Linked DNA regions of Homo sapiens. The protein of the gene in region 2 interacts with the protein of the main gene of each other region in a biochemical or structural test. Each region holds a gene or a part of one and is shown on either strand. Other genes may lie near its edges.

What was found. Proteins that work in one complex are often made in the same cells at the same time.
Region 1: the proteins of RAB4A (region 2) and RUFY1 form a complex in vitro, tested with the Homo sapiens proteins (2 studies listed by BioGRID).

Annotation. Positions count from the first base shown.
Region 1 is NC_000005.10:179,546,730-179,554,000, reverse strand, and holds the start of RUFY1 (RUN and FYVE domain-containing protein 1), read right to left. Parts: upstream 3,448-7,271; 5' UTR 3,432-3,447; coding exon 3,122-3,431; intron 1-3,121. UniProt on the Homo sapiens protein: Activating adapter involved in cargo sorting from early/recycling endosomes. Regulates retrieval of proteins from endosomes to the trans-Golgi network through interaction with the dynein-dynactin complex.
Region 2 is NC_000001.11:229,273,592-229,281,486, forward strand, and holds part of RAB4A (ras-related protein Rab-4A), read left to right. Parts: intron 1-7,895. UniProt on the Homo sapiens protein: The small GTPases Rab are key regulators of intracellular membrane trafficking, from the formation of transport vesicles to their fusion with membranes.

The DNA of each region.
Region 1 (7,271 bases), on a different chromosome or scaffold from region 2:
CTGCAGAGCGAGCCGCCCTTGGCCCATTTCCTTTCCCACCTCTGCTCCTGTCCTACCTGATGGCTTCAAATCCCGGTGACCTTTGGGACCAGCCTCATGGCTCTACCCAGCAGTTCCCCAAATTTCATCTCTTTGTAAGCCATGGTCACCATTTTGCTAGATTGAGTGGTAGTTATTAATACTTTCCTTAAATTGAGTTAATTATTATTTTTTGAGATAGTCTCGTTCTGTTGCCCAGGCTGGACTGCAGTGGAATGGTCTCGGCTCACTGCAAACTCCGCCTCTTATGTTCAAGCAATTCTCCTGCCTCAGCCTCCTGAGTAGCTGGGATTACAGGTGCGTACCACCAAGCCCGGCTAATTTTTGTACTTTTTTTTTTAGTAGAGATAGGGTTTCACCATGTTGGCCAGGTTGGTCTCGAACTCCTGACCTCAGGTGATCTGCCTGCCTCGGCCTCCCAAAATGCTGGGATTACAGGTGTGAGCCACCATGCCCGGCCTAGTTTTTTAAATCCATATGGGATATATATATAGACATTTTGCAGTTGGTGAAGTTACTTCTCTTTAATACTCTCTTTATAAAATAGGGATAATAATGGTACTCATCACCCTGTGCCATCTACATGATTTACAAGGCCCAGTGCAAAATTCCCGGCCTGGAGCAGAGCACAGAAGTCAGACTCCCCCTTACTACAGCCCTAATGGATTGCAACTTCCCTGCAGGGATGGGACAGGTGAGAGGCCCCTGCCCACTTGCCTGCCTAATGTGCTGTGGTACCAGCCACCCTGCCCTGAGATTCGGAGGGTGCAATCCCAACGCTGCCTGGGCAAGAGTGGGATCAGGGAGGGTAGGGAGAAGCCCCAGGGCAGCTCGAGTGGGCCAGGGCAACTGAGAACCTGTCCCATTGGACTTCACTTAAAAAACACAAATTCAAAGATAAAATTAAGAATTTCAAGCATGGGATACTTCTGAGTGCCTGGCCCTTTCCACCAGAGTGATCAAAGCCTGCATTGACTGTCCACCCATGAAGCTAGTCCTGCTATCACATAGGGTTGTTGTGAGGAATGAATGAATACTTGTACAGGTTTAAGACTAATGCCTGGCACCTTTGAAGGACAATATAAGTGTTGGCTATTGTTTCTATCACTTCCATAGATGGAACACAGGTATTTTTCAAATATGCATTTGTTCAGCAAACACTTATTATTCTGTGCCAGGTACTGACACATTTCATTTTATCTTTTTAATTTTTTCCTTGATTCTGCATTAAAGGAAAGAAATTCTAGCAGGGAAGAACTTTTATTATTTGCTTACTCCTGCCACGAAATATCTAAGAGGCCTCCAGGAGACGCCATGCCTTGACTTTCAGTACTGACTGTCAATGAGTATGCAACTCAGCATCCACTGATGTGTGGAAAAGTCTCGGGAAAAGGTGTCAAGCTAGAGGGCAGTAGATTCCCGGCCTGCCCAGGCTCTCATCATCCTCTAATGCTATTTTCCACTGCCAGGATCTCAAAACGAGTCAGCCTTTCAACTTTACTCAGTAATTATTCTTGACCACTGAAAATCTCACAATTCACTACCTGGGGTCAGTGCATCTACAGCAAAGGTACCAGTGGATGGGGAGGAATCAGGAAGCCTCGAGTGTGTGCTATGATGCTCCTTGGAAGGCACCACAACCTTTCCTCAGCTCTGTCCCAGCATTTTCTATGAAGTTGGCAATGTTCTATTATGTGCTATCTCATACAGTAGCCACTGGCCACACACAGGCTACTGAGCATTTAAAATGTGGCCGCTGTAATCGAGGAACAAGTTTTTTTTTTTTTTTTTTTTTTTGAGACAGAGTCTCGCTCTGTCACCCAGGCTGGAGTGCAGTGGCGCGATCTCGGCTCACTGCAACCTCTGCCTCCCAGGTTCAAGCGATTCTCCTGCCTCAGCCTCCTGAGTAGCTGGGACTACAGGTGCATGCCAACACACCCAGCTAATTTTTTGTATTTTTAGTAGAGACGGGGTTTCACCATGTTGGCCAGGATGGTCTCGATCTCTTGACCTCGTGATCCACCCGCTTCGGCCTCCCAAAGTGCTGGGATTACAGGCGTGAGCCACCGCTCCCGGCCGAGGAACTCAATTTTTAATTCAATTTAAAAGTACTGAATTTCAATTGATTCAGTTAGAAATTGAGGAATCCGGCCGGGCGCGGTGGCTCAAGCCTGTAGTCCCAGTACTTTACGAGGCCGAGGCAGGTGTATCACAAGGTCAGGAGTTCAAGACCAGCCTGGCCAAGATGGTGAAACCCCGTTTCTACTAAAAATATGGGAGGGGGGTGGGGGCGGGGAACTTAGCCGAGCGTGGTGGTGGGCACCTGTAATCCCAGCTACTCGGGAGGCTGAGGCGGGAGGGAGGATCGCTTGAACCCGGGAGGCAGAGGGTGCAGTGAGCCGAGATCGCACCACTGCACTCCAGCCTGGGCGACAGAGCAAGACCCGGTCTCAAAAAAATAAAAATAAATAAAAACAAAAACACACACACAAAAACATATGCGTGCTGTTGTATTGGATAGCACAGCTCTGGATGTCTGGCGTTAGAGGGCTAAGTTACTTAACTCTTACTATCACTGATATGCTGGCACTCTGTTCATTACAAGGGCTGAAAAGGTCTTTAAGAGATCATCGGGTGACTTTAAAATCCCCATCTCACAGGCAGAGGTGAGCGGAGGCGCCGCTGGTCCGCTGCGCGCAGGGCCCACGCCCTCCCAACACCCGCCGGCGCTCCACTCCCGCACTGAACGGCTGAAAAGCAGAACAGTGCTGGCTCCGTTTCGTGTGTGGAGTTACTACAGAGTTCCGAAGCCCGGACGCGCACACGTCCTTCACCTAGTTAGTGGGAGAGCATAGAGGCGCGGGTGCGGGAGCGCGCTCAGGCACGCGGGGCTGCGGGGGGCGGTCTCGGCTGGGCCGCCGGAGTAAAGACCCAGGCGCAGCCAGGCGCCGCCCGCCCGCCAACAGCTCGCGTAACCTCCCGGAACGGCCAGTGCCCTCCCAGCCCGGCCCCCACCGCGCCCGCGCCGGCGGCCAGCGGGGACACGCGAGTCCGCCGCGGGACAGACCCGGCCCGAGCCTACCTGCGCGCGCCGTGCCGTCCCCGCTGTCCCCGCCGCCCAGCCCCGCGGCCGCGCGCAGCGCGCTCCCGCAGCTCGCCGACAGGTTCCCGGTGGCCCTGCGTGCCAGGGTCAGGATGGGCGCCGACCAGCCCTCGGCCGCCCGCGGCCTCGTTGCGCTCCGCAGGTCGCCTGGGCCGGGCAGCTGGCTTCGGTCCACGATCTCAAACTCTTCTCCCGGCTCAAGCGCTGACCCGGGCCCCGGCCCCGGCTCCAGCTCCGGCTCCAGCTCCCGCCCCCGCCCAGCAGCGCAGCCGCCTTCCCGGTCGGCCATCTTGGCCGTGTCATGTGACCCAGCGGGCGGGCGGGCGCGGGGTGGGGGCGGGCGGGCATCGCCTTTGCCTTAGGTGGGGGAGATTTTTCTCCCTCTTCACCGCCTCGCCTTCCCTCTGTTTCGAAAGGTTCGGGAAAGTCCAAGTCATAACATAAAAAGTGTGCGTATTCCCGGCCGCCGGCAGGACCTGTTCGCGGGGAAGTTCCTCTTGAACTTTCTCCGAGGACAGTTGTGCACCCTGCCCGGCGCTTCACGGGGTTCCCTGGCCGTCGTTGTCTTTGTGACACCATTTCCTCTTTTAAATTTTCATTTCATGGTCTATATTTTCCACTTCGTCATTTTTCTGTAGCACTCATTAGAACAAGCCCCGAAAGGGCGACTAAGGAAACGCACAGGCGAGGCAGGAAAGCAGGAATTTTTTTTTTTTTTTAATCTAATGACTATGACGGCTTGGCAAGAAAGAGTGCACGATAGTGGACTGGAAATCAGAGGTGGCTTCTCCTATTGATTAGTTAAGTGGGATAACAAAAACCGACCTCATTATTAAATAAGATTTGCAGTAAGGACCACATGGCAGATGTTAGCGATTGTGACTACTATCTCTGGTATCCAACTGTGTGGCCTGGGTAAGTCACTATACACTCAGTCTGTTTCTTCACTTGGAAAAGAAAGGAATTTGAGTAAGTACAAAGGAAAATTTTGGCCGGGCGCGGTGGCTCACGCCTGTAATCCCAGCACTTCGGAAGGCCCAGGCGGGCCTTTAGTAGGACGAAACCCCGTCTCTACTAAAATACCAAAACAACAACAACAACAACAACAAAAAACCAGCCAGATGTCGTGGCGGGACAGCTCTACTCCTAGCTCCTTGGGGGGCTGAGAGTGGGAGGATCGCTTGAGCCCGGGAGGTCGATCCCACAGTGAGCGGAGATCATGGCCACTGCACTCCAGGCTGGGCGACAAAGTGAGACCCTGTCTCAGAAAAAACACTAAAATTTACTAGCACTTAACACTTTGCAAAGTGAGGCAACATGAGCCACACCAAACCAGCAGAGCTGTTTTGATTCCCAGAATGTTTACAAATCTTAAAACTTGTTGCCAATATTTAGAAATCAAAAGATTTCACATAAGAATCTGGATTTTAGCTTTCTCTGGAATCACTGGAATATTTGGTAACTCATGGCATATTCCCAGATGGCAACAAACTGTTGGGAATAAACTGTGCTGCCCCTTTAGACGCCCAGCTGCTCCCTGGACCTGTCTTGGTCCAGCCCACTTCACTAGGTTGCATGATATGTCTGGTCCCTGAAAGGCCAGTTCTCAGTGAAGGGATACCACTTCATCTAGGAGTGTTTTGGGAATTTGTGGAGTTGGTGTTTGAGTTGTGTAATGACTGAGGGCATACTACCAGTCTTTTTTGTTTGTTTGTTTTCGTACGGAGTCTCGCTCAGTCGCCCAGGCTGGAGTGCAGTGGCGCGATCTCGGTTCACTGCAAGCTCCACCTCCCGGGTTCACGCCATTCTCCTGCCTCAGCCTCCCGAGTAGCTGGGACTACAGGTGCCCGCCACCACGCCCGGCTAATTTTTTTTTTTTTTTGTATTTTTAGTAGAAACGGGGTTTCACCGTGTTAGCCAGGATGGTCTTGATCTCCTGACCTCGTGATCCGCCAGCCTCGGCCTCCCAAAGTGCTGGGATTAGAGGCGTGAGCCACCACGCCCGGCCTGGTCTTGTTTGTTTGTTTGTTTTTGAGGCCAAGTCCTGCTCTGTCACCAAGCTGGAGTGCAGTGGCGCAATCTCGGCTCACTGTAACCTCTGCCTACCGGGTTCAAGCGATTTTCCTGCCTCAGCCTCCCAAGTAGCTGGGACTGCAGGGGCGTGGCGCCACACTTGGCTAATTTTTGTACTTTTAGTAGAGACGGGGTTTCACCATGTTCGCCAGGATAGTCTCGATCTCTCGACCTCGTGATTCCCCCGCCTCGGCCTCTCAAAGTGTTGAGATTACAGGCGTGAGCCACTGAGCCCGGCCCTACTAGTCTTTACTGGATGCATAGACAGGGATGAAGATAGTCTAGAATAACAGCATTGTCCCGAATCCTTCATGACTTTCCAATGCTACTGGACATTTATGTAGGTGAAAAGTTTGTTTATAATGATCAGGGCGTGGAACCGAATTCCATTTTGTATAAAAACATTAACTCTTTTTTGGGGGAACAGTTTCAACATTTATCAGGCAAGGTTATTCTTCAGTAACAACCCCCAAATCTCAATGGCTTAACCTAAAAGCTGGTTTCTCATCATGCTACATGTCAATGTAGATGGGGTGAGTACTCTGCCCAACTCATTGTAGTCTCTCAGGACCCAGCCTGTTGGGAGTTTTGCATAAATATTACATGCTCCAGTCCTGCATGACAAAGGTCACTTATGCACATTTCATTGGTGAAAGCAAATCACATGGCCACGTTTAATTTCTAGGGAGTTGGGAAGTTCAGACCTATTTCTGTCTGGGAAAACCACAACTGGGAATCTTTGTGAGCAGTGTAATGACTACCATAAGTGTACCCTAAATTTTCCTGGAACGTAGCTAAATTGATTTGTTCAGAATTACACGTGCAAATGTCTATGTTATTTCAGTGGTAGTTGTGCCTCGTTTACATATTGAAATATATCTCATTTTATAGTGCTTCGCTTTATTGCTTTTTTAACAAATTAAAGTTTTTGGCAGCCGGGCACGGTGGCTCACGCCTGTAATCCCAGCACTCTGGGAGGCACAGGTGGGTGGATCACCTGAGATCAGGAGTTCGTGACCAGCGTGGCCGACATGGCGAAACCCCGTCTCTACTAAAAACACAAAAATTAGCCAGGCGTGGTGGTGGGAGCCTATAATCCCAGCTACTCTGGAGGCTGAGGCAGGAGAATCGCTTGAACCTGGGAGGCAGAGGTTGCAGTGAGCCGAGATCGAACCACTGCACTCCAGCCTGGGCGACAAGTGCAAAAAAAACTGCGTCTCAAAAAAAGAAAAAGTTGCTGTTGGCAACCCAACAGCACGTGCTTATTTTGTGCCTCTGTTTCACATTTTCGTAATTCTCAAAATATTCTAAACTTTTAAACTACCCTTACATCTGTTATATGATTTGTGATCTGTGATCTTTGGTGTTACTATTATTAATTGTTTTGGGGCACCACAAACTGCACCCATATAAGATGGTAAACTTAATTGATAAATGTTGTATGTGTTCTTACTGCTCCACCAACCACGTGTTTCCTTCTCCCTTACCCTCTCCTCGGGCCTCCCTGTGCCCTGAGACACAATATTGAAATTAGGCCAATTAGGCCGTGGCTCAAACCTGTAATCCCTGCACTTTGGGAGTCTAAGGTGGGCAGATCACTTGCGATCAGGAGTTCCAGGCCAACATGGTGAAACCCTGTCTCTACTAAAAATACAAAATTAGCTGGGTGTGGTGGCAGGCACCTGTAATACCAGCTACTGGGGAGGCTGAGGCACGAGAATTGCTTGAACCTGGGAGGCGGAGGTTGCAGTGAGCTAAGATTGCATCACTGCACTCCAGCCTGGGCGATAGAGTGAAACTCCATCTCCAACCAAAAAAAAGAAAAGAAAAAGGAAAAGAAATTAGGCCAATTAATAACCGTACAATGGCCTCTGAGTGTTCAGGTAAAAGGAAGAGTTGCATGTCTCTCTCTTTATATCAAAAGCTAGAAATGATTAAGCTTAATGAGGTAGGCACGTCAAAAGCCGTGATGGGCCAAAAGCTTGGCCTCTTGCACACAGTTAGCCAAGTTGTGAATGCAAAGGAAAAGTTCTTGCTGGAAATTAAAAGTGCTACT
Region 2 (7,895 bases):
TTACCTGGGCATGGTGGTACGCTTGTAGTCCCGGCTACTTGGGAGGCTGAGGCATGAGAATTGCTTGAACCCAGGAGGTGAAGTTTACAGTGAGCCAAGATTGTGCCACTGCACTCCATCCTGGGCAACAGAGTGAGACTCTGTCTCAAAAAAAGAAAATGAGTTTTAGAAGGAGCAAGCAGGACAGTTGAAGTTTGCCAAGCTGAAGTAAAAGTCACCTAGAACCAAGTCCTAGGCTGTCACTTTGACGTATCAGTGGCCATATTTATACAGCATTGTTCCTTAAAAGTGAAACAGTCAGGCTCTCTTCTGGACATTTGCCTCTGAGCTGGTGAAGGAATGTTTGCCTAACCTTTAAACTCCTTTGTACTCTGTGCTTATTTGCTCTTCTGTAAAAGGAGGCTCTGTGTAGCTTGACAGAGAGATGAGGAATGAAATGTACTGGGTTTTTGTTTCCCTTTTTTTTTTTTTTTTTTTTTGAGACAGGACCTCGCTCTGTCACCCATGCTGGAGTGCAGTGACACAATCACGGCTCACTGCCACCTCCATCTCCCCATCTCAAGTGATCCTCCCACTTCAGCCTCCTGAGTAGCTGGGACCACAGGTGCATGCCACCACACCTGGCTAATTTTTTTTTTTTTTTTAATTTTTTTTGTAGAGACGAGGTCTCTGTCTGTTGCTCAGTCTCATCCCGAACTCCTGGGCTCAAGTGATCCTCGTGCCTCCACCTCCCAAAATGTTGAGATCACAGGCATGAGCCACTGTGCCCTGCTGAAATGTACTGTTTATGAGCTACCTCTCATTAATGTGTTCATTTAATATGCTTTTTAACATATTAAAACAGTATTTCACCTTCCATAGACTGAGTAGTGTTGAACATTTTTGTTGCTTTGAAGTCACCACATGAATACTGTACTTTATGTAATATCGTGAAACAAATTGAAATCTTAGGTTTTGGATGAAACCCTTAGTCTGAATATGAAACAGTTCTACCAAATGCCATTAGATACACTACATTCTTAAAGCCCTGGCCAGTTAGTATGGCTTGGGACTTCCCAAGGAACTCTGCTTCAGCCATCTGAGACCTGGGAGATTACAAATTGGCTGAAAGTAATTTTGATGCTAAGCAGCGATGTTCAGAAAGGAGCTGAAAAGTATATGTAGTGGGAAAATGCCAGGAATTTCTTTTGAAATTAAGTGCTGGGGCAGTTCGAGAGTGAGGAAAAATCTAATACAAAATCTCTACATATATTAGAGTTTATGCCGTCTACAATGGGAATAACAAATGAAACAGAAGAATACAATTCAAATTGCTGGTTCTATGCTCATTTTTATTAAAATATACTCTTAATGTTTTTATTTTGTGCTTCATTTTGAAAACAGCACAGTATTACAGTATTTGCCATATAATTTTGAGAATTATCAGAATATTTTCCTTAAAAATGTATCATTTTAGGCTGTTCAGGTTGAATTGTGTTCCCCAAAATATCTGTTTAAGTCCTAACCCCTAGTACCTGTGAATGTGACCGCATTTGGAAATAAGGTCTTTGCAGATGTAATCAAGTTAAGATGAGGTCATCGTACTGAATTATGGTGAGCCCTAATTCAGTGACTGGTGTCATTATAAGATGAGGGAAACTTAGACACAAATGCATTCAGAGAGAAAGAGATGTGAGGATGGAGGCCAAGATTGGAGGGATGCATCTACCAGCCAAGGAGTGCCAAGGGGTGGCTGGCAACCACCAGAAGCTAGAGAGAGGCAAGGAGGGATCCTTCCCTTGAGCCTTCAGAGAGACCTTGACCCTGTCAGCACTCTGAATTTGAATGCCCGGCCTCCAGAACTGTGAGACAATAAACTTCTGTTGTTTTAAGCTTCCCAGTTTGTGGTTCTTTGTGATGGCAGCCCTAAGAAACTAAAATATAGGCTTTGCTCATCAAAATACGATTCATGAGAAATTTAGGATGACAAGGCAAGATGAAGTGAAGAAGATATCCTTGGTAAAGGAAATAGCATTTCTTTTCCTTTTTTTTTTTTTTTTTTTTCTTTGAGATAGAGTCTCTCACTGTTGCCCAGGCTGGAGTGCAGTGGCACAATCTCGGCTCACTGCAACCTCCACCTCCCGGGTTCAAGCGATTCTCCTGCCTCAGCCTCCCAAGTAACTGGGACTACAGGCGCCCGCCACCACACCTAGCTAATTTTTTTTTTGTATTTTTAGTAGAGGCGGGGTTTCACTATGTTGGTCAGGCTGGCCTCCAAACTCCTGACCTCATGATCCCGCCCTTCTCAGCCTCCCAGAGTGCTGGGTTTACAGGCGTGAGCCACCGTGCCCGTGTATAAATAGCATTTCAAAGTCACCTGGTTCCAATAAAGTATGAAATAACTTGCTCTTAGGGAAATCACCCCAATTGCCCTTTACCTTAATTTCATGAAAGATGGAACAGGTAAACATGTCAACAAAGGAATCCTGTAACACCAAAACAAAGGACATTTCTTCAAGTTGAATAAATATATGATTATACATGTTTGTCATTTTCTTTTTCTCATTCACTGAAAGCTGGTGAACATTTCAAGTACCAAAGTTTGGGAAACATTGCACCAGTGGCTTATCAAACTAATGTGCACACGAGTCCCCTGGTGTATTAAAATGTAGATCCTGACTTGGAGGGTGAGGGAGATCGGCATCTGACCAGCTCCCGGGCCGTGCAGGTGCTGTTGGTCCAGGGAGGCATGTAATGACTCCATGCTCGAGAACTTTGAAAGCATGGTTTTTTGAAAAAACAAAATATTCTTTCTCATGGTCATTTGAACTGTAAAGTATTCCAATCCATGCCTGTGACTTTACTGCTGATGCTCTGATGACTGTAACATCTATATTTCTAGTCACATCCTTCACTCAAACTACAGATCTTTTTTTCAGCTACCTAACTACACCTGGGTGGCCTACAGGCATCTGAATGCAGTACGTCCCAAACCCAACAAATTATTCACGCCTATGCCCCATCTTCTATTTTTCCTGTGTTTGCCTAGAAGATAAAGTTAGAGTCCATTTTTAATTCTTCCCCATCCTTACCTCCTGGATCTATTGGGTTTCAGAGTCTTTTGAGCTGACTTCTTAACATGGTTTAAGTTACTGTTTACCCTGAAAGATGCAAAGGAAAGTTAAATTAGGGCCAGTTTACATGATTAAAAGGTAAGCAAATTGGGTTTCATTCCAAAGTTCTTCGTCGTAGTGACTTGAGCAGCTGTGCTGACTATCTTACAGCTTGCCACACAGCATCTGCACCACTGTCCCTAGGCAGCTTCCACAGCACCTGGAACCTGGGTTCATGAGGATACAAGAGCCTCCTGGGCCAGGATGGGAGTAGTTTTCCACTTTAGAAGAACTATATATCTATATATAATATAGATATATATAATATATATAGTTTATATATAAATTATTTACAATTTATATATAATTATTTATAATTTATATATAATTATTTATATTTATATAAATTATTATTATATCAGTGGAAAGTAACAAAGAGTTGGCCTGCTAAGTAACTGCCTTCCTCAAATCAGCCTCCTCAGTGTGTGTGATCCCAACGAATGGGTCAGGAAAATCAAAGACCCAATCACGAACCTGGAGCAATTGTTGGGAGTCTGTGCTGCAAATGTTAAATTTACAAGCGTCAGGATTCCGCTGTGCCGACAACGTTTAATTCAGGCTTAGGTAAACCGCGGCTCCTACAGGCACACTGCAGAGTCCCATGATTAGCTTTTGCTGCCTGTTCCACCTCCTTTACTTCTTATTCTTCCCGCTCCTCTACAGGTCGTGTGCTCTTCTGCTGCCCAAACCTTCCACCTCTCCTAACCAGCATTTCATCAAGGTTCCCACTGTTCAATTCCTCCCTGACCATTGTACCAAAACTTTTTGTCCTTTAAAGTACATGTCATCTTATATTCTGTCCTCTGCCAGCTCCTCGTTGCTGTTATCTGATGACCCTGGGGATAGTCCTTTTTCAACAAGGTCATCTATCATATGGTCTTGCTCTTTGCTCTAACTCCTGACTGATCCTAGGTCACTGCATTGTCCTTGCAGAGGTCAATCAACAACTCCGCTCCACAGTTCCTTGACTTTAGTCAAGATGAAGTCAGGTCTCTTCTACCACCTCTTCAGGTACTCACTTCCCTGACTGCTCCCTGGACTTTGTCACCTATCCCATTCTGACCACTCCAACTCCATCCAGTCTTCACTGTAAGAGCTTCAGGCTGCTGGTCCATCTCCTCCCTTTCTTCTTTTTTTCTGAGACAGAGTCTCACTCTGTTGCCCAGTCTGGAGTGCAGTGGCATTATCTCAGCTCACTGCAACCTCCACCTCCTAGGTTCAAGTGATTCTCGTGCCTCAGCCTCCTGAGTCGCTGGGATTACAAGTGTGCGCCACCACGCCTGGCTCATTTTTGTATTTTTAGTAGAGACGGGGTTTCACCATGTTGGCCAGGCTGGTCTCGATCTCCTAACCTCAAGTGATCCACCCACCTTGGCCTCCCAAAATGCTGGGATTACAGGCATGATCCACCATGCCTGGCCCCTTTCTTCTTTTCAGGCAATGAGCTGCTCTCTCTTCAGATAAGACTCATGGCTTTTCCTTCCACCTCGTCCTTCTTTTTCTTTCAACTACACACACTTTGCACAGCTCCAGCCCTGGCTACCCAGCCATCTGCCTTGCCTGCTGTGCAGACAGAGCTCCTTTTAGATTGAGATCATTGCAGATGTATGGTCTCTGCTTCCAGCTGGGTACTCAGTAATACTTAGCAATCATTTTTCTTATCCTGGCCACCTCTCTCTCCACATCAGCTATTTTAAACCTTCACACATCTCCTCAAGCCCATTCTCTCACTCCTAGTAGATGACCACCAGTAGATGTAAGGAAAAGATGCCATGTCTGCAAACTTGCTTACCTCATCCTTAACCCTTTCCATGTTGTCTCAGAAGGTCTCTGTTGTTTAAAACTAACCCCAGCCTTCTACTTTGGACCCCATCTCTAAAGCTTCAAGTCCCCACTTCACCCATCATGTCTGTTCCCCTCCTTTTCCCTTTCCACTGGTAGCTTCCTGACTTTGCGCCTTCCTCCTTTAACCACCTCTGTCTCTCCTTTCCCTCACAGCTAAACTGCTTATAAGAGCTGTCAGTACTTTTTGTCAACAGTTTTACTTCCTTCATTCTTCAACTGACTGTAATTAGGATTTTGCCCCCACCTGAAATGATGTTGGTTTCACCAGAGATGCTGATGATCAGTCAGTGGACACTTGGCAGCCTTTATCTTACTTAGCTTCTCTTTTCATATTCGGCCCTTATAAGAACTGCTTCCCCAAATCTCCACTGTGTTGGCTTACAGGTATTTTCAACTTAATCTCTGAATTGGCAACTTATTATTTTACCTTAAAGCCTATTCCTTCTCAGAACCTTCAGCATCTCTTATCTCAGTTTTCGTAATCACAGACCCTAAGCCTTTAATTCCTAAAGAAGGAAACCTTCTTTAAATGACTCCATTCTACCCAAATTCTAGTGCTATACCACAGCACTTAGCCTTTTCTGCCAGGAAGTAGGACACATGAAATGCATCATACAGTCAGAGGCCATACATCCGTGCTTCCTTTCTGACATTTGGAAATCTTGAAAGCAAGACGATTGCTTGGGGAAAAAACTAGGAAGGCAGAGGTCATCGTGTCTGCTGAATATGGCTTAATTTTCTTGAACACTCAAGGTCATCATTGACTATTGACTGCTGCACAGAATGTGCTGTGCTATTACGGCCACTTTCTAGCTCATCCCCTGCTGTCCCCATCTGCCTTTGTGCCTGTAGTTCACAGTCCTACTTTAGTATATACCTTTGATCTACTGCAGTTTGGGGCATTAGGTAATAGAGGCTGCTTGAAGTGAATGTAAAACAAGTCAGTCAATTCCAAATGAGGTGTCTCCTGTAGAGTTAATCTTTTTTGGCTTTATGTTTGCTATTTCAGTGGCTAGGAGACCTTTTTTTCCTGGTCTTTATTTTGTCTGTGTTCCTGAATGGCTGACATTTGCTCAAGATTGAATTCTAATTATTTGATACCTTTCCTATTATCTCATTTGACTTTTCTCATACGGAAAGTTAAAAGTACATTAGTAGGATGTATCTGTTTTAGATTTTCTGTTTTGGGGTGTGGTCTTTCCCTTCAATCTTAATTCATTCTGGAGAAAACCCTTATCAGGTGAATATAATTATAAACTGAGTGAGAAAAATTTATTGTGAATTTGAGCCCTCAAGTTAACGTTCACTATAATAAACACCGAATCTAATTTAAGTGGGCACAATTATTTAACCAGTTGACACTTAGTTATATAACCTACATAGGCATTTTGCCTTCATTAATTACTCTGTAATATGGCTATTCACCTGTTCCTGTTAAGCCTTTCTGTAGTTGTTAAGCACTATACACTTAACATATAAAACATACACATGGTATGCTATATATATGTCATCCACTGTTAAGCAAGGAAAAAGAAAAAACCACAGATTAAAAATACAAAATAAACCCATAAAACTAGTACAGATTCTGCCATATTCTGATATGGAGTCATGATGAGTGAGATCATCATTGCTGCAAACCAGCAAACATTGAACACTCTGAGAGAACATGATGCATTCCTGCCAGAATGATTTCTGTGAGATCCAGGTAATTCAGCACTAACTGAAACTCCTCATGAAGTTGGATTCTCATCATCTACCAAGGAATAATTCATTATCTCCTTATAGTTTTATCTGCGTTATCTAAATACATGTATCACCACACAGAAAAAGAATTGATGGACAGCTCAGCTGCTTATCTGCTGCTCCTTCCTTGTGGTATTGTTTCCTTCTTGAATCCTTTGCTAGTTCTTCCAGTTTGGGGACTGTGCATAGTAAACGTACAGAGTCATTGTCTGATAATATCACGTATTTTTTTTTCCGTTAAGCTTTCTATTTTGAGATCATTGCAGATTCATATAGTTTTAAGAAAAAATACGGAGTTCTCATGCACCTTTTTCCTAGTTTTCTCCAATGGGAAAAACTTACAAAACTGTTGCAGAATATCACAACTAGGATATTGATGTTGACACAGATACAGGACACTTCCGTCACCACAAGATCTCTCCTGTTGCCCTTTTATAGGCACAGACTTCCTTCCTATCACCACATTTTCCTTAGCCTTTGGCAACCACTATTCTCCATTTCTATGATTTTGTCATTTTAAGAATATTATATAAATGGAATCTTGCAGTTGCAATTTTTTCGGATTGACTTTTTCACTCAGTATAATTCTCTGGAGATACATTCCAGGTTATTGCATGTATTGACAGTTTAATCCTTGTTATTTCCGAGTAGCATTTCTTGTTATGAGTGTACCAAAGATTGTCTAACAATTTACCTGTTAAAGAACATCTGGGTTGTTTCCAATTTTGGGCTATACCAATACAACTGCCATAAACATTCATATACAGGGTTTTATATGACTCAAAGTCTTCATTTCTCCGAGATGAATGTCTAGGAGTGCAGTTTCTGAGTCATATGGTAGTTAAATGTTTAGTTTTATAAGAAACTGCCAACCATACTGTTAACATTTTACTTAATGTTAAAATCTCGAGCTGTAATGGTGAGTTTGTCTGTTTGGCCTTTTAATTCTGTTAGTTTTTGCTTGACATATTTTACAGCTGTTTGGCATATACACGTTCAAGATACCTATATCTTATTGGTGGGTTTACCCTTATGTATTAATAGTTATGTAATGACCCTTTCTGTCTCTGGTTATTTTCTTTGTTCTGAAGTCTATTTTATCTGATATTAATACAGCCAGCCCTGTTTTTCTTTGATTAATGTTTGTATGATACA